2 separate regions of the Homo sapiens genome follow, and region 2 is linked to region 1. The links come from fine-mapping of genetic effects on gene expression. A gene starts in region 1. The other region holds a variant in brackets. All regions are shown on one strand. Distances are from middle to middle.

What was found. PIP is the estimated chance that this variant, and not a neighbour inherited with it, causes the effect.
Region 2: its variant is the best candidate, but not a certain one, in a credible set for the expression of NDFIP1 in whole blood (INTERVAL, PIP 0.63).

What each region holds. Positions count from the first base shown.
Region 1 is chr5:142,100,114-142,115,688 of GRCh38, reverse strand. NDFIP1 (Nedd4 family interacting protein 1) reads right to left here and starts at 6,910. Exons shown (of 8, transcript NM_030571.4): 1 at 6,652-6,910. The coding sequence starts at 6,714. LOC105378204 (a long non-coding RNA gene) reads left to right here and starts at 12,502. Exons shown (of 3, transcript XR_944368.3): 1 at 12,502-12,650. RefSeq lists silencers at 6,481-6,550, 6,621-6,750, 6,811-7,080, 14,298-14,498 and an enhancer at 6,658-7,159.
Region 2 is chr5:142,014,421-142,029,666 of GRCh38, reverse strand. No RefSeq gene overlaps it. Among named protein-coding and RNA genes, the nearest start is that of GNPDA1, 9.0 kb to the right of the region's middle. RefSeq lists a silencer at 11,279-11,338, an enhancer at 11,489-11,548 and a cis regulatory region at 15,101-15,246. The variant A/G (reference allele first, on the strand shown) is at 8,518.

The DNA.
Region 1 (15,575 bases):
CAATGACTTGAAAAAAAGATAAACCATCATGCCAATTTTCAGTATGAATGGAACAGAAGTATTAAAGTTGCTTTATCTAAATTGTCCATTATTATAAGAATATAGGCCGGGCGCAGTGGCTCACACCTGTAATCCCAGCACTTTGGGAGACCGAGGCGGGCAGATCACTTGAGGTCAGGAGTTCAAGACCAGCCTGGCCAACATGGTGAAACCCCATCTCTACGAAAAATACAAAAAATTAGCTGGGCGTGGTGGTGGGCACCTGTAATCCCAGCTACTCAGGAGGCTGAGGCAGGAGAATCGCTTGAACCTGGGAGGCGGAGGTTGCAGTGAGCCGAGATCGCGCCATTGCCTTCCAGCCTGAGCAAGAAGAAAGACACTCCATCTCAAAACAAACAAACAAAAAAGAATATAATTCTTCTAAGCTGTTGTACTTGCTTAAAGGTAAAACAAGAACATTTTAAGAAACCAAAATAATTATTTTAAAGCCCTAAAAACAAATAAATCTGAGGATGTCACTTGAATCTCTTGGAGACTTTTTTTCTTTCTTAATAAAAATATGAAGTTATTCTCATGGTAGGATTTACTTTATAATCTACCATAAAATTATGAAATATAATTAATGTCTAGGATAAAACAATTTGAAGTTATGTGCAGTTAAACTACTGGTGGCATCAGCTTAGAGCAAAATTCCCTAGAGCAGTTCAACTGGGCCTTGGTTTCTGCCCAAACCAGGAAGCACTGCCCTATTTTCAGGACACAGATAGTATGATTAAGCCAAATAAATCTTGCCTAACAAGTGGTCACCCATGGGATCAGGTAAGAAAACAAGGATAGATTAACAGGAATCTATCACTGCTACAAAAACAAAGCATGAGGCTTGGCAAGAGTGAGCCCAATCAATACAAAGGACAGTTAGTTATGGATCCACAGCCCGACACTGACAAATCCTGTTTCCATACTCCTCACAGATTACAAGAGAGCTCTCATGATATATTCCTCATGTGATATCTTCTTGAAATATCATACCATTTGTTTTCTTTTAGCGTTACACATAGAAATATTTATCAATATATGATTTCTAGGATTCGTTTCAAAATAATGTGGTGAGTATAAGTGAAATAATATTGGCCATTCATTCACAATTGCTGAAGCTGGGTGATGGTACATAAAATTTCTTACACTACTTTATTATTGTATGTGTTTGAAATTTCCATAGTAAAAAGTTGAAAATGTAAACATCATGAAGAAATTACTCCTACAACTCGACAACAAAAAACTCAATTCAAAAATGAACAAAGAACATGAATACACATTTTCTCTAAAGAAAATATCAATGGCCAATAAGCACATGAAAAGATGCTCAACATCGCTAATTATTAGGGAAATAGGGATCAATACTGCAATGAGATACCACTTCACACCCATTAGATGGCTACTATCAAAAAAACAAAAACAAAAAAGAGAACATAACAAGTATGTTGAGGATATGGAGAAATTGGAATCCTTATGCATTGTTGGTGGGAAAATAAAATGGTGAAGCTGCCATGGAAAACAGTATGGGAGTTTCTCGAAAACTTAAAAATAGAATTGCCGTATGACCCAGCAATTCCATTTCTGGGTATATCCAAAAGAACTGAAAGCAGGGACTTGAAAGATATTTGTAGACTCATGTTTTTTATAGCAGCATTACTCACAATGACCAAAAGGTAGAAGCAAACCAAGCATCCGTCAACAAATGAATGCATAAACAAAATGTGGTACATATATAAAATGGACTATTATTCAGCCTTAAAGAGGCAGGAAATTCTGACACATGCTACAACATGGATGAACTCTGAAGACATTATGCTAAGTGACATATGCCAGTCACAAAAGGACAAATCCTGTCTAATTCCACTTATGAGAGGTACCTACGGTAGTCAAATACATAGAAAGTAGAATGGTGGCTTCCAGGGGCTGGAGGAGGGGGAATGGAGAGTTATTGTTTAATGGATATGGAGTTTCAGTTCTGCAAGGTGACAAAGTTCTGGAGATGGACTGGTTCCACAACAATGTGAATGTACTTAATGCCACTAAACTGTATACTTAAAAGTGGTTAACATGGTAAATTTTATGTGTATTTTACCACAATTAAAGTTTTCAAAGGAATAATTTACCCATCTTCCTAATATTTTTATAAATTTTCTTTGATCACTGACCATGTAGGCCACAAATACAGCATATAACTTAAGAAACTTTGACATTTAGGTTATGTTGGCATTCTGTGATATAACTTCTTTTGAAACTGAAAAATAAGCAAAAAAGCCACATAAGCACTATTCATTCCTTCCTCCAGGATCATTACTTCATCTAATAATTTAACATGAATATGGTTTGACCTATCAGAGATGAAATTCTTATGCTCATCAAAATATTCCTCCATAATCCTGAGAGAATTTATCCAAAAGTATACCATTCCAAAATCTGCACTATAATGTCATCAAACTATCATACAGAGTATTGGTGATGCTCACAAGTGGGCAACTTCTTTAGCAGGTAATGAGGCAAGTCCAGAACTAAACATTCTGTAATCTGTTTGAACCTACATGGCAGTGTCATCATCACCCACTTACATTGAATTCAAATCCAAGTATCCCAAAATACTTGAAATGAATTGGCAAAATTCATGCACACATCTACCGCAGAAGATCTGCGTTCATCTATGGATGAACGGGAGTTAACGTCCTCAGAGAGAGAAACACGCAACAGGTTTCTCAGCACTCAGTATGGGCCTACTTAGGTCTTTCTAAAATAGTGCTTCCATACTGTCTGAGACAGTCTCAGTTTCAAAAGGCAAAAATGAAAAAAAAAATAAAATAATGCCAGGGGAACCTATAAGCCTAGCCTCTTTTTTTTTTTTTTGGACAGAGTCTCACTTCGTCGCCCAGCCTGGAGTGCAGTGGCGCGATCTCGGCTCACTGCAATCTTCACCTCCCGGGTTTCTCCTGCCTCAGCCTCCCGAGTAGCTGGGACTACTACAGGCACGTGCCACCACGCCCAACTAATTTTTTGTATTTTTAGTAGAGATGGGGTTTCACCATGTTAGCCAGGATGGTCTCGATCTCCTGACCTTGTGATCCGCCCACCTCGGTGCCTTTTTTTTTTTTTTTTTTTAAGACAGTCTTGCTCACCCAACCTGGAGTACAGTGGCGCGATCCCAGCCTACTGCAAACTCTGCCTCCTGGGTTCAAGTGATTTTCCTGCCTCAGCCTCCCAAGTAGCTGGAGTTACAGATGTGCACCACCACACCGTGCTTTTTTTTTTAAACAGAGTCTTGCTCTGTCGCCAGGCAGGAGTGCAGTGGCACGATCTCAGTTCACTGAAACATCTGCCTCCCAGGTTCAAGCGATTCTCCTGCCTCAGCCTCCTGAGTAGCTGGGACTACAGGTGCACGCCACCACGCCCAGCTAATTTTTGTATTTTTAATAGAGATGGGGTTTCACATGTTGGCCAGGATGGTCTCAATCTCTTGACCTCGTGATCTTTGTGATCTGCCTGCCTTGGCCTCCCAAAGTGCTGGGATTACAGGCATGAGCCACCTTGCCTGGCCATTTTTTGTTTTGTTTTGTTTTGGTTTTTTTTGAGACAGTCCCACTCTGTCACCCAGGCTGGGGTTCAGTGGCACAATCTTGGCTCACTGCAACTTCTGCCTCCCAGGTTCAAGCAATTCTCCTGCCTCAGCCTCCCAAGTAGCTGGGATTACAGGTGAGTGCCACCACACCTGGCTAATTTTTGTATTTTTAGTAGAGGCAAGGTTTTGCCATGTTGGCCAGGCTGGTCTCGAACTCCTGACCTCAAGTGATCCGCCCACCTCGGCCTCCCAAAGTGCTGTGATTACAGGTGTGAGCCACCACACCTGGTTGAGCCTACCCTTTCTGCATAGTCTGTCACTATGCTAAATTCAAGTTGTCCACATATTACACTACCAATAAAAAGACCATAAAGACAAAACTGTGTTTGCATTTATGAATGAATCATACAGTTTTCCATTACATTTACTTGGTGAGAAAACTAGCTCAATTTGATTAACCAGATCAAATAGAAGTCAGAACAGCCCTGTGTGACAACCAAAGAGTATCATGCTCCTATCAAGTTGCCTGGACAATTCACCATCATTCTATAATTCAAAAGCCTTTTAAAAATGCATATTCGCTGACCAGGCATTTCCATGGCTAGTAATTTATGCTAAGGAAACGGTTGAAGACGTATGTGAAATAAATTTCAATGAAAAAAACTGTAAACATTCTTAGTGACCAAAGATAAGCAATTAGTTAAATTATGATTCAGCCATACAATTACATGCCATGCAGACATTAAAAATATTTTATATAGAAGACATTAATAACATTGTGTGAAGAACATTACAAAATAGAATTATGAACCTATTTCATTATTTATCTAGCATGCCTTTGTAGATACATGTGCATGATACACATGTGCAAATGTATGAATGCACATGTCTGAGAACAAGATACACATGGACACGTGCAAAAGTATGTGCAAGTATGATCGGGGCTCATAAAACTGCACACAAATGTACAAAGATATGTCTGTATACGTATATATGGGTACATAAGAGAATACATATGCATGTGTATATATCTGCTAATGCATACACCTATATCTGGACTGTGAGCCTGTGTTTTAAGTAGGTGAGTGTGTGTATATCCTTATAATCACTACTTAGCAGCCTGTGACCTTGAGGCAAGTTACTGAGCCACTTTGAGTCTTTGACAATGAGAACAAACCCTGGTTCATAAGGGTTTGGTATGAATTAAAAGAAAAAAAAAATGGATGTAAATTACTTAATACTGTGATTGTTGCATAAAAAAATCAATATTAGCTTTCCTGCATTCCTTATCTGTACACACATATACTGATCTATAACTATGTATATTTACATAGCTATAAACCCACAAGAATGCACATTAAAATATTACCTTTGGTTATCTATTTGGTTTTTGTTTAGGGAGGGTTTTGCAGTTTTTTGGGCTTTCATCTTTTACAATTTTTCTAGGAAGATTTTTTTCTCTTTTTTTTATACTTCAATTCTGCATAATTAAAAAATATTAAATGCCACACTAAGGAATACATGATTTTGATACTCCAGCAAATTTTTTATATTCTAGCAGTATGTCAGCATTACCTAATAGCTCAAGAAGATGGCAGTACAAAGAAAAACCACAGCTCTTTTGCTCGTTAGCCTTATCCAAGTCAGGATGAAAAGGATGAAATCAGATGACAGTATACAGTAGGGGTGATTTGCAAACACTGTGGTGACAGTTAAGTGGCATCTGTTATTCCCATTTTATTAAAGCAGTAAGGAACCCGCAGGCTGCCCAAGGTCATAGAAAAAAAGCATGTGCTAGATCCATGTGCTCTGAAGAGATCTAAGGATTAACTGCATTGCCACAATTTGGGCCGTGTTTATAAAACCAAGAAGTGAAATTCTTAACTAGTCATTTTGGGAGTCCAAGCCTGAGTGGGGACGGATTGCAACACATGGCTGATGATAGCAAAACAAACCAGTAACCGGCCGGCCGCACCAGGGTTAATCTACGTTTTCATCGTACTGGCTGGCTTTCCTTACTTCTAAAATATAAAATTGTAGATCGTCTAAGATAGGACATTTTATTTGATAAAAGGAGGATTGACATCTGTATGCACCGAAAGCATCTGAAACATGACAAACACAAGCCGTTATTTGCGGTTCCAATCAACATCAGTTTACCACCTGGCTCAATTCCCACCATTACTGTATGTTAGATTAACACTTCCAAAAACCCTGCAGAAGGTCTCTAAATTTCCTGGGGGAACTTAGCTACAGACGCGGAGTGAAACAAGCAGCTCTTTTCCCTGGGGCCTCAATGTATTAAATCAAACCCGAGAAAATGATCCAATCATTTCCTATACATTTCCTCCCCAGCTATGCCATCAAATCTCTTAAAACGTCACTTCCAAGCATTTAAAATACACCCGGCACACGCCCTGCAGACTTCATCGTAGCTCTCCCTTTTGGGGCATCACCACAGCCAAACATCGCCTCTTCCAAATCTACTGCAAACTGCGGGCTTGTCTCTTGCTTCATTTTTTACTTTTGTCTTAAAACGGAGGCGAGGGGGATGGGTTTCGACAAACTAGGCTCTGAAACCCTGAGCAATAGCATCTTGCTGTGGGGAGCTATCGGCAGCAGCAGAGATTTTAATCTTTTCTCTCCACCCAGTTTCCGTTTCATGCTTTTTTCTTTCTTTCTTTTCCAATGACATCAAACCAAAGGTGGAAAAATGAAAAACGAATGCCTCAGATCGATGCCGCCTGTGGGTCGCGGGTTCTGACTCAGGGACCCGCCCGCCCTGGGAAATGCGGGAAACGAGGCCGGGAGGAGGACTTTCCACCGCCGGAGTCCCACCTGGGGTCGCAGACGGGCAGGCCGGGCCCGTGGCAGCCTCGAATCCGAGCCCGGGGCCCGACCCGCCCCTCCAGGCCCAGCGCGGCCTGCCAAGCCCCGGCGTCGAGTTGGCCGCGGGCCGGCCAGAGAGGCCTGAGGCGGCCAGCGGGCAGGGCAGAGCCAGGGACCGGAGTTCGGGGCTGGAGTCGGGCGCCGCTTACCTGCTGGTACCGGCTGCCGCAGGCCGGCTCGACCGCCGCCAGCGCCGCCAACGCCAACGCCATGGCGCAGCCGGCAGCAGGGAAGCAGAGCGAGCGAGCGAGCTAGCTGAAGGGGCGCGGCCGCTGCGGCTTGGGAGCGCTGGGAGGCCGAGGGGGACGCGCCTTGGGTGGGTCTCGATGGCCGCCGCCGCTCCCGGGCGAGACGCTCTTCTCAGGCTGTAAGCACCGCCGCCGCCGCCGAGGCTCCGACGCGGCCCCTGGGGAAGAGGCGGGGACTACGACGACGGCGCTGCGCCGCCGCCCCACCCCCGACTCGCGCCGCCCTGCCCGGCCCGGCCCGGCCTAGCCTAGTCCTGCGCCGCCGCCCCGAGGTGCACCGGCCCTGGTGTAGTTGCTCCGACGACCTGAGCCTCCGAGGCTCAAGTGTTGTATTCGATTCCACTAAAAACGAATTACTAACAGGCCAGCCCAAAGCAAGGGCGATGCTGCTGATGAGCACCTCGTGCCAAGCACTGAGCTTCACCTACGTGCCCTCATCCAGCCTTCAGCACAACCGCCCTGACGCAGGGACCACAACCCCATTCTCGAGGTCGTTGGCAACCAGAGAGGTTGACAATCTTCACAGCAGCGACCTGATCCCTCGTGTCTGGCAGCAGAATCGTGGTTCTTATTCACTCCCTTCTTTTATCTGCCGTACTCATAAACCAGGGGTCAGCCAGCGACAGGGAGGGGGCCAAATCCGGTCTGCCACCATGACTGTGAAAAGTACATGAAATTCAAGTTTCAGTGTCCATAAATAAAGTTTTATTGGAACACAGCAGCACCCATTTGTTTGGTATGGCCTGCAAACCCTATAATACTTGCTATCTGACATTTTACAGAAAAAGTTTGCTAACCCTAAATCCTTGAGAACTGCTTGGATCTCAAATCCTACTTAGGGTGGATGATTATAATAGCATCCTCATGTTTATGCCATCCTTTAGTATTTTAACAGCCTCATCTGCGGAATCGGAAACAATATTTTCCAAAAAAGCTCCCTGACTCGGTGACATGAAGTCAAAACTTGAAGGGTTTGGCCATGCTAAAGGCTTTCCCGACCACAGGAACAGGTGCAAAGGGCGGTCCAGAGAGAGATTGTCTTGTGGAAGAACAGAAAGGAGGCTGGCATAGCTGCCATATAGGAGATACAATTATCAGTGTTTCACAGATGAGGAAGTTATGCCCAAAGAAATTAAATATCTCACCCAATGACACAGAGCTACTAAGGGGTGAAGCTGGAATACAACTCCATTAAGCCAGCTTTCTTACCCAGTATTGCACAACTAAATTATAAGCTTTGTGAAGACAAGAGTATTTGTCTTTTAAATCTTATTACCTCCCAATGCCATGTAGCACAGTATAGCTATATAGCAGGCTTGCAAGGTCTGTTTCTTTCACACCCAGCCATCTGCAATTGCTTCTACCCACATGTCCTACAGAGAAAAACAAAATCTTCCATCTCTGAAGCTTGTTGCAATTCCCATTTCTTCTTCATTGCCTTTCCAAGTTGGCAGTGTAGAGGTTATATTAATATGATTATTGTCTTAGCTTCTAATTTTGAAGTTTAGTTAATTATGTATTTTAAAAGAGAACTGTGTTTAGAACACACCCTGAGGTTTCTGTATATATGAGAAAATTGTAATCAATAAAAACTCTAGATGTTTACCATCTTCACTTTGAGTTCTCTCTCAGCATCCAAACTCCTCTATATCTGTCGCTATTTCCAAGTATTAGTCTCACATATTAACATGCTGGGAGAGCGAACAAATGTAGCAACATTCCAAGCTCTCAAGTCTATTTAGAGCCTCCTTACTCTGTCCCTCAGTTGTTGTTTATAATCCAGAAAAACAACATTTAAATGTAATCAGGTACAGTGAATCAAACATAATGTCCTGCCATGTAGTCTTGTATAAAGGGTGCAAAAATCTAATTTGAAATTTTTTAAAATGTCAGCAGTGGAAAGTAGAAATCCAGACTTCTTTGTCCAGATTGTCTACATTTACGTGTAAGAAAGAATAAAAAAGAATGTCCACTGGGCACAGTGGCTCACATCTGTAATCTCAGCACTTTGAGAGCCTGAGACTCGAGGATCACGTGAGCCCAGGAGCCAGGAGTTCGAGACCAACCTGGGCAACATAGTGAGACACAATCTCTGAAAAAAAAAAAGAAAAAGAAAAAAGAATTTGTCGGCCTACCACATAAGGCTATTGGAGCAACAACTGCAATCTTTATGCATGTCTGCAGTGCTGTGGCTTTTGTGGAAAAGATGTTGCTACCCTTCTATTTCTTTCCTAAATTACTTTCTCCCTCAATATCTATATACTCCCTGCATGTGGACACAAATATTTATCATAATATAAATAACAGGCTTTATCATAGAAATATTTTGCATTGAAAGTAAAAGAAAATTGATCTCCAACTTCTAATCTCCTTTTCCTATGTCCTCAACCAAAATGTTTTGTAGTCACGGTAAAGATTTTGGTCTTTTTTTTCTTGAGTTCCCCAAAGCCTCTAATAAGTAAATTGAGATTATTTGCCTTGATTTGATGGGTGGATAAATTGGAGAATTGAGAAATTGAGTCACTGCTATATTAGGCCTCCAGCTGGCAGGCAAATTGTACAACGAAGGGGAAAACTGAATTTCTGGCTCACAGATCCATGCCTGGTGCAAGCCAAGCAGACAGAGAAGATAATCCAAAGCCATAAAAATTGTGCTCTTTGGCTTCATCTCGAGATGTTGTCAAGAGAGTTTCCACAGAGAAAGTTATTAATTTCAGATTGCTGCACTTAGAAACTTATTTCCCCACAGAATAACAGTAATACTTTCCATGTGCAGTACTGCATATGTGAATTGCTGACTCTGAATCATCCCTCCTGAGAGAGAAAAGAAACATGGACAAGTATAAGCATAACTCATGTCCGTATCCCTTTCCCCCTGCAATATAGATACAAATCTCTAGGATAAATGTGACCTTCTGTCTTTCATATCCACATGAGGCTTGACCTAGGTAGTGCAGAGCTCAGTAAGTAACCAAGAAGGGTTTGTTAAATGTGTTAAATTTAGACAAAAGCCTCATTAGTCTAATATCTCATTTGAGGCCTTGAACTTCTCCAGCTAGTCTTCACAGGGCTCCAATTAAACCATGAAGTTTTATTTCTATGACTTACTACTTCTTTTAATTCTCACTACATTACCACAAGGTTCATTAAGAGCAAAAGGTAATATCTTCATATTACAAATAAAGAAATTATCCACTGATAATTACTACTGTTATGGAGCACTTCCAGAATCTTGGACCTGATGGTACATCATCTGCTTAATCTTCATAACAAACCCATTCTGCAGATTCTTGAAGAGACTCAGGAAATTTACATAACCTACTCAGCTTTGTGAGCGGTGGAGTCGAAACGCAAACTGGGATTTGTCTGGCTCCAAAATGTATGCACTGCTTTGGGTGTGGAGAGAAATACGGGACATAAATAGACAGGAGATAGAAAGTTCTAACCTTTGGAGTCTTCATGATGAAATAGAGATGATAGTAAACACTTATTTGAGACATTTTTAAAATATAAAACTTACAAGTTATTTACAACTGTGTTGAGCTATATTAACTAATGCTGAGAGATAGTGAAGAGAATTATGTGGCCAGCTGGGATAATCAGGTAAGGATTGGGAAGAAAGGGTTTTGAACGAGAAAAGGGCTTTGTTGGCCAGGTGTGGTGGCTCACGCCTGTAATCCCAGCACTTTGGGAGGCCGAGGCGGGAGGATCACCTGAGGTTGGGAGTTGGAGACCAGCCTGACCATCATGGAGAAACCCCATCTCTACTAAAAATACAAAAAACTTAGCCGGGCGTGGTGGTACATGCCTGTAATCCCAGCTACTTGGGAGGCTAAGGCAGGAGAATCACTTGAACCTGAGAGGCGGAGGTTGCAGTGAGCCGAGATCGCGCCATTGCACTCCAGCCTGGGCAACAAGAGTGAAACTTCATCTAAAAAAAAAAAACAGAAAGAAATAAAAGGGCTTTGCTGTCATGGGAAGAGAGAAAGTTGTCAACCTGAAATAACAACAGAGAGATTCTCCAAAGACAGTGAGTTTATTTGTGAATCCTCAAGATTGCAATCTGGGATATGTATGCACCTCATGAAGGGCCATGGATGTACCCAGAGAGGGAAAGGAAGGCAAAGGTTTTAAAGGCAAAATGAGCAAGGTTACATAAGTTGTTTTGAAACTATTAACCTTGGCTACAAGGATCAATAACAAGGGTGGTATCACTCCAAGGCTGAACAGACAGTTCCTAGGCAGACGTCTTTGTGTAAAGTTGTGGTGGCCTTGTTCAAGGTTGTGGTTTTCAGAAAGTGTAACCTAAAAATAGATTTTAACGTAGACATGTGTGCATGAGAGCCCCTCCTTTATGGCCTCCCGACTCCTATTTGTCGGGGTATAGAATAAGTGACTCCATTTTGATTCTTACAACTTTCACAAACTCATGAGTATAATTGTACAAAAGCTTAGAACTTAGTTTAGAACAAAATCTTAGAACTTAGCAAACTTTTAATGTTAAGGAATAGATAGAAATATTTTAGGCTTTGTGAACCATAAGCTCTGTTGCAGCTACTCCACTTTGCCATTGTATTGTGAACACAGCCATAAACAATGCCAAAGTGGCAAGACTGTGTTCCAATAAAGTCTTATTTATGATCATTGAAATGTGAATTACGTATGATTTATTTTTTTATTTTTTTTATTTTTGAGATGGAGTCTCACTCTATCGCCCAGGCTGGATGGAGTGCAGTGGCATGTTCTTGGCTTACCACAAACTTCGCCTCCTGGGTTCAAGAGATTCTCCTGCCTTAGCCTCCCGAGTAGCTGGGATTACAGGCACCTGCCACCACGCCCAGCTAATTTTTGTATTTTTAGTAGAGACAGGGTTTCGCTATGTTGGCCAGGCTGGTCTCAAACTCCTGACCTAAAGCAATCCACCCGCCTCAGCCTCCCAAGGAGCTGGGATTACAGGCGTGAGCCACCGTGCCCAGCCTCAACATATGATTTTTATGTGTCATGAAATAGTATTCTTCTTTTGATTTTTTTTTCCAATTAGTTAAAAATGTAAAAACTGGGCTGGGCACGGTGGCTCACGCCTGTAATCCCAGCACTTTGGGAGGCGGAGGTGGGCAGATCACAAGGTCAAGAGATCGAGACCATCCTGGCCAACATGGTGAAACCCCGTCTTTACTAAAAATACAAAAATTAGCTGGGTGTGGTGGCACAAGCCTATAGTCCCAGCTACTCAGAGGCTGAGGCAGGAGAATCGCTTGAACCCGGGAGGCAGAGGTTGTAGTGAGCTGAGATCATGCCACTGCACTTCAGCCTGCCCGACAGAGTGAGACTCTGTTTAAATAAAAAAAAAAAAAAAAAAAAGTAAAAACTGGCCAGGCACAGTGGCTTATGCCCGTAATCCCAGTACTTTGTGAAGCCGAGGCCAGAGGATCACTTGAGGCCAGGAGATTGAGACCAGCCTGGGAAATATAGCAAAACTCTATCTTTCCAAAAATAAATAAATAAATAAATAAGCCATTAGCCAAACATGGTAGCAAACGCTTGTGGTCCCAGCTACTCAGGAGGTTGAGGCAGTAGGATCACTTGAACATAGGAGTTTGAGGCTGCAGTGAGCTGTGATCACGTCACTGCACACCAGCTCTACACAATAGAATTAAAAAAAAAAACAAAAGTAAAAACTCTTCTCAACTCTCAGGTCAAACAAAGACAGGCAGTAGGCTGGACTTGGCTCCTGAGCAGTAGTTTGCCAACCCCTAGTTTAGTAGCAAGACAAAAGAAGTTATTTGCTATGAGATTAAATAGAGAGTTTAAGCCAGAGACTAATGCAGAACACCTACTGGAAAAGGAAAGGAAAGAGAGAGGAAGATAAGAATTTATGAAAGATCCTAAAATATAAACAGGTAAGTGGCTTTTATGAAACAGTGAGTCAGAGGCCAGATGCTTTGGCTCACACCTGTAATCCCAACACTTTGGGAGGCCAAGGCGGATGGATCACCTGAGGCCAGGAGTTCCAGACCAGCCTGGCCAACATGACGAAACCCTGTCTCTACTAAAAATACAAAAATTAACTGGGTGTGGTGGCCCAAGCCTGCAATCCCAGCTACTTGGGAGGCTGAGGCAGGAGAATTGCTTGAACCTGGGAGGCAGAGTTTGCAGCGAGCCCAGATCACGCCACTGCACTCTAGCCTGGGGGATAGAGCAAGACTCCGTCTCAAAAAAAAAAGAAAAGAAAAGGTGAGTCAGAGGAAAGGGGTTCGTCAAATAAGAATCCAACATGGGACTCCTGATTCCTTGGTTTACCTTCCTGACACTGGAATTCCACAGATTCATTTATTCAGCAAATATTAATTTAGCACCACTATAGATAAACACTGTGACTTTATGCCTAGAACCTGAAACTATTTAAAAAATGGTCTCTCATTTATTCTACAAAATGAAATTAAGAAATGCTGAAAGTGGTTATTTATGTATTCTAGCTACATATGCGTAAGCTTCAGTATGTTGTGTCTTTCTTTTTTTGTGTGAGGCAGAGTCTCACTCTGTCACCCAGGCTGCTGGAGTGCAGTGGCACCATCTTGGCTCACTGCAACCTCCGCCTCCTGGGTTCAAGTGATTTTCCTGTCTCAGCCTCCCGAATAGCTGGGATTACAGGCATGTGCCGTCACGCCTGGCTAGTTTTTGTATTTTTAGTAGAGACAGGGTTTCATCATGTTGGTCAGGCTGGTATCAAACTCCTGGCCTCAAACGCCTTGGCCTCCCAAAGTACTGGGATTACAGGCATGAGCCACTGTGCCCAGCCATGTATGTTGTGTCTTTAACTAATTTCATCTCAAAATATTTTCTTTTTTTTCTTTTTTCTTTCTTTTTTTTTTTTGAGAGGGAGTCTCGCTCTGTCACCCAGGCTGGAGTGCAGTGGTGCAGTAATGGCTCACAGTAACCTCTGCCTCCCGGGTTCAAGTGATTCTCCCCCCTCAGCCTCCTGAGTATCTGGGATTACAGGTGTGCACCACCACGCCCAGCTAATTGGTCTTGAACTCCTGACCTCAAGTTATCCACCCACCTCCCCCTCCCAAAGTGCTGGGATTACAGGCATGAGCCACCATGCCCGGCCTCAAAGTATTTTCTAATTTCTCTTGTGATTTCTTCTTTCACCCATTGGTTATTTAAGACTGTGGTTTGATTTCCATATATCTGCAAATCCCCCAAATTTCTGTTATTTATTTCTAATTTTATCCCATTGTATTTGGAGAACATACTTTGCATCATTTCAATCCTTTTAAATTTATTGACGTTTGTTTTATGGCCTAGATTATCAAATCTACCCTGGAGAATGTTCCATGCACGCTAGAGAAGAATATATATTCTGCTGTTGTTGGGTGGAGTGTTTGTTAGGGAAGTTTAAACTTTCCCTCTGAGGGTTCAATAACTGAGTCTGTTGAAATAAATGGACAAAAGATTAACAGGAGAAGAGGCTATTAACTTGCAAGCCAATGGGAGTCACACCAAGTATGAAACTCAAAGAAGGACCTGACAGATGGAGTTTAAATACCCTCTTCACAGGGGAGATGAAGGCAATTTTAGAGGAAGAGTTATCACTCTTCATATGGTTAGGCTTTGCGTCCCCACCCAAATCTCATCTTGAATTCTAATCCCCATGTGTCAAGGGAGAGACCAAGTGGAGGTAATTGATTCTTGGGGGCAGTTTCCTCCAGGCTGTTCTCATGATGGTGAGTGAGATCTCGTGAGATCTGATGGTTTTATAAGGGGCTCTTCCCCCTTTGCTCAGCACTTCTCCTTCCTGCTGCCTTGTGGGGAAGCATTGCCTTGCTTCCCCTTTGCCTTCTGCCATGATTGTAAGTTTCCTGAGGACTTCCCAACCATGCTGAATTGTGTGTCAATTAAGCCTCTTTCTTTTACAAATTACCCAGTCATGGGCAGTTCTTTACAGCCATGTGAAAATGGACTAATACAAAGAATAAGTAATTTTTAGGGGAGATGAATGGGCCCAAAGAAAAGACAATAGCCTGGGACAAAGGTCCTCTGAGCTCTGGGGAAGGTGGTGACAAGTTATGGGAAGGTGAGGGGACAGAACTGCAATGCAAATATTGTCTTAGTATGCAAATAAGGTCTCTCAGGCAATATGATAAGTTTGCTTGGGTGGGTGTAGTGACAACCTTTTGTTTCTTCTTCCTGATTTATCTTCCCTAGGCAATGAGATTTATTTATTTATTTATTTTTATTTTTATTTTTTTGAGATGCAGTTTCAGTCTGTCACCCATGCTGGAGTACAGTGGGATGATCTCGGCTCACTGCAACTTCCGCCTCCCGAGTTCAAGCCATTCTCATGCCTTAGGCTCCCGAGTAGCTGGGATTATAGACGCCCAACACCATGCCTGGTGAATTTTTGTATTATTAGTAGAGATGGCGTTTTGCCCTGTTGGCCAGGCTGGTCTTGAACTCCTGACCTCAAGTGATCCGCCCACCTCAGCCTTCCAAAATGCTGGGATTACAGGCATGAGCCACTGTGCCCCAGCTGGCAATGAGATTTTAAACAGTGGATTAAAGACAATTGTGTTTATTTTGAAAGAACTTCCCTCAATGAGATAAGGGACCTTCAGAGAGAGCCTGTCCCCACCCTTGTGGGGAGAAACAAGAGAAGGTCAGAGAGACACTGATTCTGAGGTCACTTCTAAGGCTTTCAATTTCCTTTAATTCAAAGTGCTCAGTATTCAAATAATACGCCATATTTTGGTGTATTATTTTCTGAGCCCCAACAGTTCTATAGGTATCTATTAGCTTTAGCTGGCTTATAGTATGGTGTAAGA
Region 2 (15,246 bases), 86 kb after region 1:
CTCATTTTTAGGCTGTGCTGGAGAGAAGCCTTCTCCTGGAGGCAGTACGGTCGAATGGCTAGGAGTACAGACACCGGAGTTCAAACCCCAGGTCAGCCACTTATCAGCTTGGTGACTTTGGGTGACTTATAAACCTGTCTATGCAAGTTTTCTCATCAGTAAAATTGGAAAAACAATGCCTACCTCAGGGGGTTGTTCTAAGGACTAAGTGAAATGATAATGTGTGAAAAGCACTTGGAACCATCCCTAAGACACAGTAAGTGTTCAGTAAGTATCAGCAGCTGGCACAAGGGTGATTATACACTACAGTGAGTTCTGCTGCTCCCAACCCCTCCATTTTCACCAATGTTTACCATACTACCTCTCTGTAATACATTTCGTGCTGCAGATAACTGTTTTTGGCAGGAAAGGAGTTATTACCTTCAAAGCAAGCTGACTCCCCAAAGAGGAGACTTTTTGTGATGAAATTCCAAGGAAGCTCCAGAGACTCCCTCCTTGGTGTTTCTGTCCATCAGCAGTAGGGAGCTCTCAGGAAATGAATTTCTCTTTTTTTTTTTTATTGAGACGGAGTCTTGCTCTGTCACCCAGGCTGGAGTGCAGTGGTGCGATCTCGGCTCACTGCAACCTCCGCCTCCCAGGTTCAAGCGATTCTCCTGCCTCAGCCTCCCAAGTAGCTGGGACTACAGGTGCACACCACCACGCCTGGCTAATTTTTGTATTTTTAGTTGAAACGGGGTTTCACCATGTTGGCCAGGATGGTCTCGATCTCCTGACCTCATAGTCCTCCCACCTCGGCTTCCCAAAGTGCTGGGATTACAGGCGTGAGCCACAGTGCCCGGCCTAGGAAATGAATTCTATACAGAATAATCAGATGGTTCCTGTGCCCTTTGGCTGCTTGTGCAGTTAAGCACATTTATCATGAGCTCTTCTTCTCAGTCATTCGCTATGTGGGATGAAGCTGTTCCCCTCTGGGATTAGGACTTCCCCCATTTCCACCCAGGCTGTTTCTTGTGCTCCGTGATATGGAAGAGACTTGGAGACGTGGGAAGTGTCCCACACAGCTGATCAGCCAGGCGCGGAGGTCCACCCACCTGCAGAAGGGTCACCAGGCTCAGAAACATCCTGTCCACACCTGCAAATCTATCCATGCCTCCTGTTCATGCCCAGCCCATACATTCGATTTTTAAAAATTCATTGTTTTCAAAATAATTAAAAGTCTCTTGCTCACTCTGACAAAATAAGCTGCCATGTTGTGAGATGTTCTGCGGAGAGGCCTACGTGGCAAGGACCAAGGGAAGCCTCCAGCTGACAGCTCATGAGCAACTGAATCCTACCAATAAGCATGTGAGTGAGCCAGTGTTCCGCAAAGGGGCTGGATATGCAGAGCGACCCCCAAATGCCAGAGCCAAGAAATCAAAGGAGGCTGACAAATCCAGCTTGTTGGTAGAGGATTATTTGTTAAGGTAACTTAGAAGTGTGGTCTTGCATGGCCACAAGACAGGTAGATGTGTTACTCCCCACACCCAAGGATTATATACTATGGGGAAATAGTAAATATGCTCTGGCAAGACAGTTAAAAGCAGCCCTCCAGAACAGTCAAGAAGGCTGTGTGTGTCCTAGCCTATAAAGTGTGCAATAACATCAAGGTTGCTTTTTTCTTACACTAGGGATAACAAATAAAGTAGAAACCAGGAGACAAAATTAGCCAGGTGTGGTGGTGCGTGCCTGTAATCCCAGCTACTTGGGAGGCTGAGGCAGGAGAATCGCTTGAACCCAGGAGGTGGAGGTTGCAGTGAGCCGAGAGAGTGCCACTGCACTCTAGCCTGGGCAACAAGAGCAAAACTCCATCTCAAAAAAAAAAAAAAAAAAAAAAAAGACCTAGATAGGGGCCAGGTGTGGCAGCTCAATCCTGTAATCCCAGTACTTCGGGAGGCTGAGGCCAGAAGACTGAGAGACTGAGGCAGGAAGATTGCTTGAAACCAGGAGATCAGCCTGGGCAACGAAGCAAGATCCTGTCTCCACAAAAAAAAAAAAAAAAAAAAAAAATTTAAGGAAACAAAAAAAGACCCAGCTAAGCTGCACCTAGATTCCTGACCTCCAGCAACTTTAAGATAATGTTGTTGTTTTAAGGCACTACATTTTAGAGTAATTTGTCATGCAGTGAAGAATGACTAATATAGGTTGAGGGTCAGTTTTATATGTTAACTTGTCTAGGATACAGTCCTCAGTCAATCAAATAGCAATTTAGTTGTTGCTGTGAAGGTTATTTTGTAGATATGATTAAAGTCCATAGTCAGTTAACTTCAGGAAATAGAGGCCAAGCGTAGTGGCTCACACCTGTAATCCCAGCACTTTGGGAGGCCAAGGCAGGTGGATCGCTGGAGTCCAGGAGTTCGACACCAGCCTGGGTAACATGGTGAAACTCTGTCTCTAGAAAAAATACAAAAAATTAGCCGGGCGTGGTGGCACATGCCTGTGGTCCCAGCTACTTGGGAGGCTGAGGTGGGAGGACTGCTTGAACCCAGGAGGCGGAGGTTGCAGCGAGCCAAGATCACAACACTGCACCCCAGCCTGGGCGACAGAGTGAGACTCTGTCTCAAAAAAAGAGAAGAAAGAAGAAAGGAAAAAGAAGAAAGAAGGAAGGAAGGAAGGAGAAATAAGAGATTGTCCAAAATAATCTGGGTGGGCCCGATTCAATCAGTTGAAAGGCCTTAGAAGAGAGGAGTTGAGGGTTTCCAGAAGAAGAAATTGGACAACAGTTTCAGTTCATGCCCAAGAGTTCCTGCATGCCTTCCTCACAGCCTGACATATGGATTTCAGAACTCCCTCGCCAACTCCCACAACAGTATCAGCCAATTCCTTGCAATAAATGTCTCTCTCTCTCTCTCTCTATATATATATATAAAATATATAATTAAAATTGTTTAATATACATAATGCGCCTGGCGCGTTGGCTCACGCCTGTAATCCCAGCACTTTGGGAGGCCGAGACGGGCGGATCACAAGGTCAGGAGATCGAGACCATCCTGGCTAACACCGTGAAACCCCGTCTCTACTAAAAATACAAAAAAAAATTAGCCGGGCGCGGTGGCGGGCGCCTGTAGTTCCAGCTACTCGGGAGGCTGAAGCAGGAGAATGGCGTGAACCCGGGAGGCGGAACTTGCAGTGAGCCGAGATCGCGCCACTGCACTCCAGCCTGGGCGATAGAGAGAGACTCTGTATATATATATATATATGTATATATATATACACACACATATATATGTATATATATACACACATATATGTATATATATGTGTATATGTATATATACATATATATGTATATGTGTATATATACATATATATGTATATGTGTATATACATATACATGTATATGTATATACATATATGTATATATATACATATAGACTATATATAATATGTATATATTATATATTATATATCATATATCATATATTATATATGATATATATTATATACAATATATCATATATATGATATGATATATATTGTTATTATATATGTGTATATATAGACATAATGCATCACAGAGAATAAAGAAATGAAAACAGTATCAAAGGATATGCCATAAAAAGGAAGACTCCCTCCGCTTGCTGCCTTTTAGTTCCCTTCCCCCAAAGAGATCTCTGCGACCTGTTTCTTTAGCATCCTTCTAGAAATTGTCTATGCGCGCAGGAACATATATTTATTCTTACCTCCTTACCCTCATGCATGTTTTAGCACACATGTTATACGGAGTTCTGTATCTTGCTTTTAAAAATTTATTTAACTATTGTGGTAGTCTTCCTATCAGCTCATGGAACTGGCTCCTTTTTAGTAGCTGCATTGTATTCCATTTTACAAGTGTGCAAAACTATTCAATCAGTCCCTGATTGACGGATATTTAGGTTGTTCTAATATTTTTCTTTAACAAGCCGGGATGCCATGGATGCCCTTCCAGAAAGACAAAGGACTTAGATTTCTTTCTGTCGGATATGGGGCTTTCCCTCCCTTCCCGTCTCACTTTCCCCATAGAGTTGGCTGTGTATGTGGGGCACATCCTGTATTTTGTCTACTTGACTTTGTCAAGACTCCTTGAATGTCCTGTGTTCAGCTTTTTTCAATACATTCAAAAATCATCAGAGCTACTTTTCCTCGACAGTAACTGGCACCTAAATTAAATCACCTAAATGGCAACACTAGCTGAAAAGCGTATCTCCATAAAGATTTGGACAATACCTTCTTGGTTTCATGCAGGTTCGGCTGAGGGAAGAACAGAAGGGAAGACTGAGAATTAAGGGTACTTATTTTTTTATTCGGGAAAGGAAAACACTGTTCTTTGCAGAAGCCCAAAGTCATGAACAGGAGCCACCGTTAATTAGAGATAACTTCTAATCATACACACGTTCTGAAAATCAGCCAGTCGGCGACAGCATCGCTGCAGTAACTGCACTCCTAAAAGTAAGCGGATCCACTACAGCCCGAAAGGCAGCGCATCAGGGCCGGCCCCTCGGTCCCCTCCGCTGCTCGACAGCAGCCAATGAGCAAGTGTCTCGCTCTAGCGCCGGCGCTCCCGGAAGTCGGAGGCGAAAGGCAGCCTCCGCCTGTGATTTGCTAACACAGCTGAAAGGCCTTAGATTCCTAAATACTTAGGCTTCAGAAGCGCCACCAGACCCTGCATGACCCGCTTCCCTAAACCTTACACTAAATCAGCCCTGGGGGTTGGGAGACTTTCCCATAGAGGTACGGTTCTCTCTTGCAAGCAAACCGGAAGTTCACTTTTTTTTTCTTTTGGCATCAGATGTCAGGTTCAATGTAACGCAACTCTTTTAACAGTTGGACCTTGTTTATGGTTTGTTATGAGTTTGGACTTACGAGTGACAGATGTACTGAAGCGGCTGAGCTTAGCAAAGTCAGTCTTCCATTTTTGCAGTAGTTTATATGATCTGTTTTTTATTTGCGTATATTTGAACCACTGATTGTCAAAAAGCAAGTGTAAATTTTGTGATGAAATTTCTGACCAGTGGACATTTATTAAACAAGGAAAAGTCCTTTTGAAGCTCTTTGTGCAGTAATTGTTCATTTAGTATAAAAATGATAGAAAGTTAGATGGAAACTAGCATATATGAATGGCTAAACATAAAAGAGATGTAAGATTTTCTCAACCAGTACTAAGAAAAGTGATACACCAACAAAGTTTTTTGATTAAGAGAAACTCAGATTAAGACAAAAATAGTTGTAATAGAAGTTGTAATGGCCTTCCACACTATATCATTATCAGTCTTTCTGCTCAAATAACTATTTGAACATACTACTGACAAAGTATTTTCTGGTTCCAAAATTGCAAGCAAAATTTCAAATGCTAGGATAAAATCGACTGCCCTAATAAAAAATATAATAGCTTCATTTATTATTACAGAGATTATCAAATATCTAAATGCCTCATCTTTTTGTGGCATAGCCACAATACAAGTATCACAATACAGGTACAACTTTTCCTGCGCGCACTAGTTTTCTCATAAAAACACTTGCAACAAGGCAATTGCAGGTAGAATCCCTTCCAGGTGAGACTTCAGAAACAATAGCAAATATTTGCAGAGCCTCTTGAGTTGGCAGTTAATGAAAACGTTTTTACTGCTTTCGTTGGAAATAATACAAATAGAACTTTTGTTGGATGTATGCTTACAAGTACACTATTTATTTGAGTTGAAGCAAAGCCTCAATGATCCTATGGAAGGTATTGGCAGTCCTGCTCGTGTTCTCATAATGCTGCGTAAATAGCATTGGATGGATCTCTTCTATTGAAACTGAAGTAATTATCATGAAATTGTTCTCTTACTTTAGTATTTATAGGGTTCTAACTGAACATTTTAAGGATTTTTATGATTTTGGCATTCGGAATTATTCATTTCTCTTGCATTCAAAAATCCATTGGATCTCTTTAACAAACATAGTTGAGAGAATCTTCCATTTATTTCAAGCACTGAAATTATACTTTAATTATGAAGAAAAGGCCCCCAAAATTCTTGACTTTTAAAATAATCCATTGAATGGTGCCTAGTTATTTCTCATTCATAGTTTTCAGTGTCAATTCTGCTATAGGATTCTGCAAATTGAAAGAGCAAATAGTGTTATGGAAGTACTACTCCATTGCTAAATGTATTTGTTGAATGTGTTGAAGGAGAATTGATGAAAAATGCATCCCTTGAATTATCAAAACTATTGTTAAAAGGGACATTACATATGAACAGGAAAATACATTTTAGCTCAGAGTGGACAATTATTACAACACTTGTTATGACCATCTTTCAAGATGGATTTCATCCCTTGAAAAATTCAGTTTTTTACATGGATGTTACTAAATACTTTTCCAGTGTGGGTACAAGTGGAATCACCATGTGTGGTGTGATGAAAAAGAAAGAATAAAATCTATACTACATTATATTACATGTGTTTTTTAATTTATTACATGAGTTTTTATTCCTTCTTTTCATTACACTACATTATATGTTATGCATACAGGTACAATGATTATTCAAAGTTGAAGCAAAACCTAAATGATTACATTACGTGAAAAATTTCATGATAATTACTTCAGTCTCAATAGAAAACATCCAGTGCTATTTAAGCAGCATTATGAGAACATGGGCAGGACAGCCAATATCTTTCATAGGATCATTCAGGCTTTGCTTCAACTTTGGATAAACATTGTACCTGTTTGCATACATCCATCAAAAGTTCTATTGTAATCTACATGTAGTGTAATGAAAAGAAGGAATAAAAACTGATGACAGTGCTCCTTCTTGTCAGTGGACAACATTTTAAAGAGTCATTGATCAAAAGATGCAATGTGATCCTGAAGAACGGAAAAGCAAGTTATGCATGAAAGATGACACATGTGCTTCAGCCAATCAAATTTGAAGAGTAATTCTCAGAGTTGGTAACTTTATGCCTATGTATGTTCAATACACTGGCTTGTAAAGCTAATGTCAAGCATGATTTCTCATTAATGAATGTTCAGTGGCCAAAAGAACAAAATAAATTGGATGCAACCACTGCAGAAGTCATGATAAAATGTAAATGGAACACAGACTAATAGTAAGGAATTTTATACATAAATTCTGCAAAATGAAGAACTATTAGGGAGCACAAAATCTCCAGGGAAATATAATTAAAGAGGTATGTAATTTAGATATTTACAATTTATTTCAGATAAGCAATGAATATGTTACTAAAAGTAATTTACTAAAAGTATAAGTCAGTGCATGCAATATTTTTCTATCTCAGTGTACATATGCACAGGCAATTATAAATAATTCAGATTTCACTGATGTTCTGTACTTTTATTTGTTAAATCTACTCCCTCAGCCTCCGTGCCACTGTGCCTTTGTTTGTGCCTGCCTATAATGCCTTCCTCCTCCTCTTAAATGATCAAATCCTGGCTCTTTTGAGCCCATCTCAAAACCCTAGTAATAATGGTAATGGTCCCTTAGTGAGGGCTAACTCTGTGCCGGGCACTGTTCTAAGGGCTTTATATTTGTCAAATCATTTGCTCCTCCCTGAGATTCTTCTTTTTTTTTTTTTTTTTTTTTTTTTTTTTGAGATGGAGTCTCGCTCTGTCGCCCAGTCTGGAGTGCAGTGGCGCAATCTCGGCTCACTGCAAGCTGTATTTCCTGGGTTCACACCATTCTGCCTCAGCCTCCCGAGTAGCTGGGACCACAGGCGCCCATCACCACGCCTGGCTAATTTTTTGTATTTTTAGTAGAGACGGGGTTTCACCATGTTAGCTAGGATGGTCTCAATCTCCTGCCCTCATGATCTGCCTGCCTCGGCCTCCCAAAGTGCTGGGATTACAGGCAAGATTATTATTCTTGAGAATAATACTACATACAATGTGGCAGCTATTATTTGCCTTAGACGCATTACATCATTTACCCTTCGTGAGGCAACTGCTCTTGATAATAATAGTACATACTGTAAGGTAGATCTTATTTTTCCTATTTTATGGGTGAAGCCATTAGGGAACAAAGACATGTCATAACTTACACAGAAGTTACACAGCCCAAAAGTGGTAGAGCTGGGATTCGAAGCCAGATAGTGTGGCCATGGAGTCCATTTCTGAACCCTGACTTGCATGTACCCTGCTCTGCCCTGTGAGACTCTTCAAGCTATGACCCGCTTTCTCATTTAATGTTGGAGCCACACAATTTATTATATAGTTTTTTTCTTGTGATGGAGTCTAAAATTACTAAATTTGTTCTCATTTCTCCCTTTAAAAGGAATCTGCCATAGACAAGAGGTGGAATCAACTCAAACATCCATCAACAGATGAATGGATAATCAAAATGTGGTAGGAAGAGGCATAACTACCGTGATGATAAAAAGCTCAGTGAGGCCAGTTGCGGTGGCTCATGCCTATAATCCCAGCACTTTGGGAGGCTGAGGCCGGTGGATCAGTTGAACTCAGGAGTTCAAGACCAGCCTGGGCAACATGGCAGAACTCCATCTCCACAG[A/G]AAAAAAAAAAAAAAAAAGCTGGGCATGGTGGTGTGTGACTGTAAGCCCAGCATTTTGAGAGCCCAGGGCAGCAGGATTGCTTGAGCCCAGGAGTTTGAGACTAACCTGAGCAACATAGTGAGACCCCATCTCTACAAAAAAATTTAAAAATTAGCTAGGTATGTTGGCTTATGCCTGTAGTCCCAGTTACTCAGGAGTCTGAGGTGGGAGGATTGTTTAAGCCTGGGCAGTGGAGGCTGCAGTGAGCTGTGATCACACCACTGCAGTCCAGCCTGGGCAAGAGAGCAAGACCCTGTCTCAAAAATAAATAAATAAATGAATAAAAAGTTTAATGATTGCCAAGGGGTTCAGAGAGTTAAATAGGTCCTAAATCATAGTGTCATATAGAATAGTTTCACTGTCCTAAAAAAATCCCCTATATTTTCGGGGATTTTTGACACTATGCATGTCTCAAAACCCATAGAATTTTATAGCACAAAGAGTATACCAATTTTTAAAAAATCATTTAGGAGAAGGATCCCAGGACAGAATGTAGAATGTGACAAAACAATATAACTGCATTAAAATGTATTAAACAACCTCACTGAAAGTTATAGAGGGGGAAAGATGCTGACAAGTAACTTTGGAAATTAGTGGAACCTGTCAGATGAAAGGCAAAAGAAGCTGTACATAAGCACTGTGCTCTATTTGATAAAGTTGTTTCACACGGGAGTGAGGGTTACAATCCTGGTACTGCTATACATGTGTACTGAAATCAATTAAGTAAATGGATGGCAGATAGTAGGGGAAAATGTGGTATATGCATACAATGGAATATTATTCAGCCTTGAAAAAGAAGGAAATCTTGTCACATGCTACAACATGGATGAATCTTGAGGACATTATGTTAAGTCAAAAAATTGTTTAATGGCTACAAAGTTTCAGTTTTTCAAAATGAAAAAGTTCTGGAGATTGGTCACACAACAATGTGAATATATTTAATACTACCAAACTATAGACTTAGAAATGGTTAAGATGGTAAGCTTAATGGTGTGTGTGTGTGTGTGTGTGTGTGTGTGTGTGTGTGTTTTACCAAATTAAAAAGAAAAAGAAAGGCCAGGCATGGTGGCTCATGCCTGTAATCCCAGCACTTTGGAAGGCCGAGGCAGGCAGATCATGAGGTCAAGAGATCGAGACCATATTGGCCAACATGGTGAAACGCAATCTCTACTAAAAATACAAAAATTAGCTGGGCATGGTGGCGCACACCTGTAGTCCCAGCTACTTGGGAGGCTGAGGCAGGAGAATCGCTTGAACCTGGGAGGCGGAGGCTGCAATGAGCCAAGATCACGCCACTGCACTCCAGCCTGGCAACAGAGCAAGACTCTGTCTCAAAAAAAAAAAAAAAAAAAAAGAAAGAAAGAAAGAAAAAGAAAAAAGAAATTATTCCTTTGCCTTCTAGGCTTCTCCCCTCTCTTCTGCCCTCTAAGAAGCCAGTTTTTGGTGGTTTCACATCTGGGCTTTTGAGATGAGAGAGAAGAAGGGAGAAACAACTGAGAAGCCAAAAGGACTGACAGAAGTTTACTACAAGGAAGAGAAGAACAGAGCTAAATTGAAAGGAAAGCAAGGTAGAACCCCACTTTGGCTGGTCATGTGGGTGTGCTGTTGGGGCAAAGAGATTTTTTAGTTAGAATTAAGAATTAGTATCCCAGCACTTTGGGAGGCTGAGGCGGGCGGATCACGAGGTCAGGAGATCGAGACCATCCTGGCTAACACGGTGAAACCCCATCTCTACTAAAAATACAAAAAATTAGCCAGGCCTGGTGGCGGGCACCTGTAGTCCCAGCTACTCGGGAGGCTGAGGCAGGAGAATGGCGTGAACCCGGGAGGCAGAGCTTGCAGTGAGCCAAGATTGCGCCACTGCACTCCAGCCTGGGCGACAGAGCGAGACTCCGTCTCAAAAAAAAAAGAATTAGTGGTTGGCTGGGCGCAGTGGCTCATGCCTGTAATCCCAGCACTTTGGGAGGCTGAGGCAGGCAGATCCCTTGAGGTCAGGAGTTCAAGACCAGCCTGGCCAACATGGCAAAACCCCGTCTCTACTAAAAATACAAAAATTAGCTGGGTGTGGTGGCATGTGCCTGTAGTCCCAGCTACTTGGGAGGCTGAGGCAGGAGAATCGCTTGAACCTGGGAGGTGGAGGTTGTAGTGAGCTGAGATAGTGCCACTGCACTCCAGCCTGGGTGACAGACTGTGTAGAGCAGTTCCAAATGCTCTACACGTGTCAATTCATTTCATCCTCACAACTATCCTATGAGTGGCCATTATGATTATCCCCATTTTACAATTGAGGGAGCTGAACTACAGGAAGGTTAAGAAAAGTGTCCCAGCTAATTAGTGATTGATCCAGAATCTGAATCCAATGGGCTTCAGAGCCAGTGTTCTGAGCCACTTGGGGCTTTGGCTTTTATGTGCAAGGTACCACTGAGCTACAGGGAGTATGGGAAATGCAGGGAGTAGTGACATATGGCTATCATTATAGGAGGTAAGACAGGGCCTCAGAAAATGAAAAGGTGGAAAACAGCAAGTAGCAGAAAGAAAGGCTCAGCAAAAGCCTTGGCAGGGGATTCCACAAACATGTGGAAGGGGGCAGGATGTTGGAGTATAGGGGTGGGGAGTGGGGAGTCTCTGATGGGTCAGACATTGCACCTCCAGACACAAGGGACTGGCTACAAAGGTTGAATCTCTTGTTTGCCACCCTCCCCATTTGTGGATTTTTTTTCTGAGCGTATTAGATATATTGCTGCATAACAAATCATTCTCAATTTAGCAGCTTAAAACCACAAGTGTTTATTATCTCACAGCTTCTGTGGGTCAAGAAATCAAGAATGACTTAGTTGAGTGGTTGTGGTTGTGGTTGTGGTTAAGGGTCTCTCATGAGATTTCAGTGAGGCTACTGGCCAGGGTTGCAGTCATTTGCAGTCTTGACTGGGACTGGAGGATCTGCTTCCAAGATGGCTCCCATGGCTGTTGTCTTGTTTCCTCGCCACCTGGGCTTTTCCATAAGGCTGCTCCAGTGTGGAAATGGAGCAGCTGACATCACTGAGAAGGTGATCCCAGAGAGAAAACAAAGAAGAAGCTGCAATGGCTTTTATGACCTAACCCTAGAAGACACACCCATCATTTCTGCACTATCCTGTTGGGTTACACAGGTCACCCCATCCACTGTGGAATGGGACTACATAAGCGTGTGAATCACTAGGAGCCGTCTTGGAGGCTGGCTGTCACACCGAGTTACTAAAATTCATAAAAATGTAATTCCTAGAGCCTGGAGGTCCACAAGGGTATGGACTTTGCTTTGTTCATTGTTGTGTCCCCAGAACCTAAAATAGTGCTGGGCACATGGTAAAGGCTCAATAAATATTTTATAAATGAATGAAAAAGAAGACTGCAGGGCAGGTGGCAATTTACTTGGCTTGGATGGAAGCATAAGATTCATTAAGTTTTCAAGGTTTTGTTGTTGTTTTTCCTTCAAGACAAAATCATTCATTTCATACAAATATTAGGCAGAATGTATCCAACCCGCAGCACCCACTTTGAAAAAATATGATGAGTCAATGAGACGATGCTTTAAAAACTTTTAGCACAGTGACCAGCACAGAGTAGATGGTCAATTACTTTGATCAAATCTTTTTATTAAATTTTTTTTTTTTTTTTTTTTTTTTTTGCCAAATGGGGCAGGGGGTTTTGTTTGAGACAGAGTCTTGCTCTGTCACCCAGGCTGCAGTGCAGTGGTGCGATCTCAGCTTACTGCAACCTTCACCTCCCAGGTTCAAGCGATTCTCACGCGTCAGCCTCCTGAGTAGCTAGGATTACAGGCACGTGCCACCACACCCGGGTAATTTTTGTATTTTTAGTGGAGACAGGGTTTTACCATGTTGGCCAGGCTGGTCTTAAACTCCTGGGTTCAAGTGATCTGCCCGCCTCTGCCTCCCAAAGTGTTGGGATTACAGGTGTGACCCACCACTCCTGGCCAGATCACATCTTAATAACAAGTTAGTGTGTGTCTGTGGCAGATTGTATTTTTTAAACATGGCCATACTTGTACATGTATCCCGTCCAACATGCTCTTCTTATAATATTACTGAACTTCTTACACAGAGAGATGGGGGTCTATGTTTTCTCTTTTTAAATCTGGATAGGGGCTTGTGATTTCTCCAACCCACAGAGCTCAGCAGAAGTGATGCTATATGACTTCTGAGACTAGGTCAGAAGAAGGATACAGCCTTAGCCCATCTTTGTCTCTTGATACGCTTGCCCTTGGAACCCACCGCTATGTTGTGAGGAAGCCCAGGCAACAAGGAGAGCCATGTGTGAGTGTTCCACTGACAGTGAGCACCTGTTGTCAAGACATGTGAGTCAATGAGCTTTCATACGATTCCAGCCCCAGAATTTGAGTCTTTCAGTTGAGGGGCAAGATATCATCGCCACTGTATCCTGTCTGAATTTCTAGCCCACAGAAACTGTGAGAAATAAGTCATTATTGTTGTTTTAAGCCACTAAGTTTTGGGGTAATCTGTTACACAGCAATAGATAACTAATAAAATATCCTTCCAGAATTTCCTCTAACTAGCTTCAGGGGAAAATGATATTTAATTATGTATTCACTCATTCACTCACTCAACCACGAAACCCAAAAGGGTATATTTGGCTTCAGACATGCTATTCTAGGGGGCTCAAATGATGTCATCAGAGTTCTGTGTCTCTCTTCTATTTGTTGTACCTTTCTGTAGCTCTAAGCTTTCCTCTGTTTTACGGCTCAAGATCTCAGGAGAAGTGTATTTTCCCCCAGTAGTGGCATAAACCCTAAGGAAGATCTGAATCACCTGCTCTAGCAGTGAGTCATGTTTTCAATTTCAAGTCACAGGAAATTCTCCTAACAATGATTTAAAGTTTAAGCCATAAGGACATTTACCATTTACTTAGAAGAAGTCCAGAAGTAGGAGGTCCCAGCACTAGTCAGATATCAAGGACATAAGTGTTTTCCCTCCTCCACTCTATCCTTATGCTTGGTGCCTCACAGTTACAACGTGGCCTCCCCAGCTTCAGTCATCACAACTGCCTTCAAGGCAGGAAGGAAAGGGAAGGAACCAGAAACCGCCAGTTTGTTTCTCAAGCACAGCACTTTTCTCAGGAAGTAAAATATCTAACCAGAAGCCATCCTCCTCCCTCATTGGGCAGAATGAAGTTACTTGGCCACCCCGTAGCTGTGGGAGAAGCTGTGAGAGTCGTTGACTTTCCAGTTTCTCCAGTGGGAAGCAGCAAGGGAGAAGGAGTCTCTGAATGGCTGCTGGGTTAGTGTCTTCCATGCCTGCCTGGCCTTGAACTAATCATGGCCAGAGCCATGGAGTCTCTAATTGGTTTGCTCCTAAGTCAAAGGGTAGGGCCAGCACCACACAAACTCTATGAATTGAGCAGAATTTGGGAGGTAACATCTGGTCAGGTTGTTTGCCCAAAGCAAGGGTGCATTAGAAGGTATAAAAATATCTGACCATACAAGAGTTGCAGAGTGTTCCATTGCATGGATAAACTCACAATTCTTTTAATTTGGCAACTTTAGTTCCAAGACAAGAGGATGGGAGGATAGGTGTGGGTAATAGTTTAAACACAGATGTGGAGTAGGAGGAGTACAGGGAGTCAGGAGGTTAGGGCTAGAGAGCATTTCAGTATGGTTAGAGAGTGGGCTGTAAGGAGGGTTAGGAGGAAATAAGGGGTAAGTAATAACAGCTGGCTGTGAATGCCATGCTATGCTAATATTTCATTTAATAGTCACAACAGCCACACGAGGGCAGTATTACTTAATTTCCACTCAATTCTTATGTTTCAGGTAAGAAAACTGAGACCTGGAGAAGTTGAGTCATTTGCTTGAATTACTCACTAAATAACCAGAAATTAGCCAGACCAGAATTGAAATGCAGGTCTTTCCGATTAGTCCCCACGCTGATCCAAGAGCCTCCAGGCTTCGCAGAGACCCTGCACTGGTTCCCTGCAGAAGGGGTAACTCAGGGGAAATGGGCTTAGTCACCAGAAGTCAGTCACTCTCCTCCTGGAAAGGTCTGGATGCAGATGCTGCAGACCTGGCCCATGTTATCAGACGTGATCGGAGATTGGAGTTGGAGCTTCATTGTGAAACATCTGCAGTCCTCAAGCTGAGACAACATTTCTGGCTGGGGGCGGTGGCTCATGCCTGTAATCCCAGCACTTTAGGAGGCCAAGGCGGGCAGATCACCTGAGGTCAGGAGTTCACGACTAGCCTGGCCAGCATGGTGAAACCCCATCTCTATTAAAAGTACAAAAATTAGCTGGGCATGGTGGTGGGCATCTGTAATCCCAGCTACCCGGGAGGCTGAGGCAGGAGAACTGCTTGAACCCGGGAGGCGGAGGTTGCAGTGAGCAGAGATCACACCACTGTACTCCAGCCTGGGCAACAGAGCGAGACTCCATCTCAAAAAAAAAAAAAAAAAGATTTCTGACTGAATTTAAAAATAAACAAAAACTACACCAACACCGAGCCATTCACAGCCTCTCAGGATTTGGAAAACAAAACAAAACAAAACAAAATAACACTGAGGCAAAGAGCAAGTCCCCCACACTGTAAAGGTATCAGCTCCACCATCTGGTCTCATCAGGGCCTCACCAGATGAAGCCTACCCCTAGCAAGCTGGTCTGGAGCTGCAGTTGGGCCCAAGGGC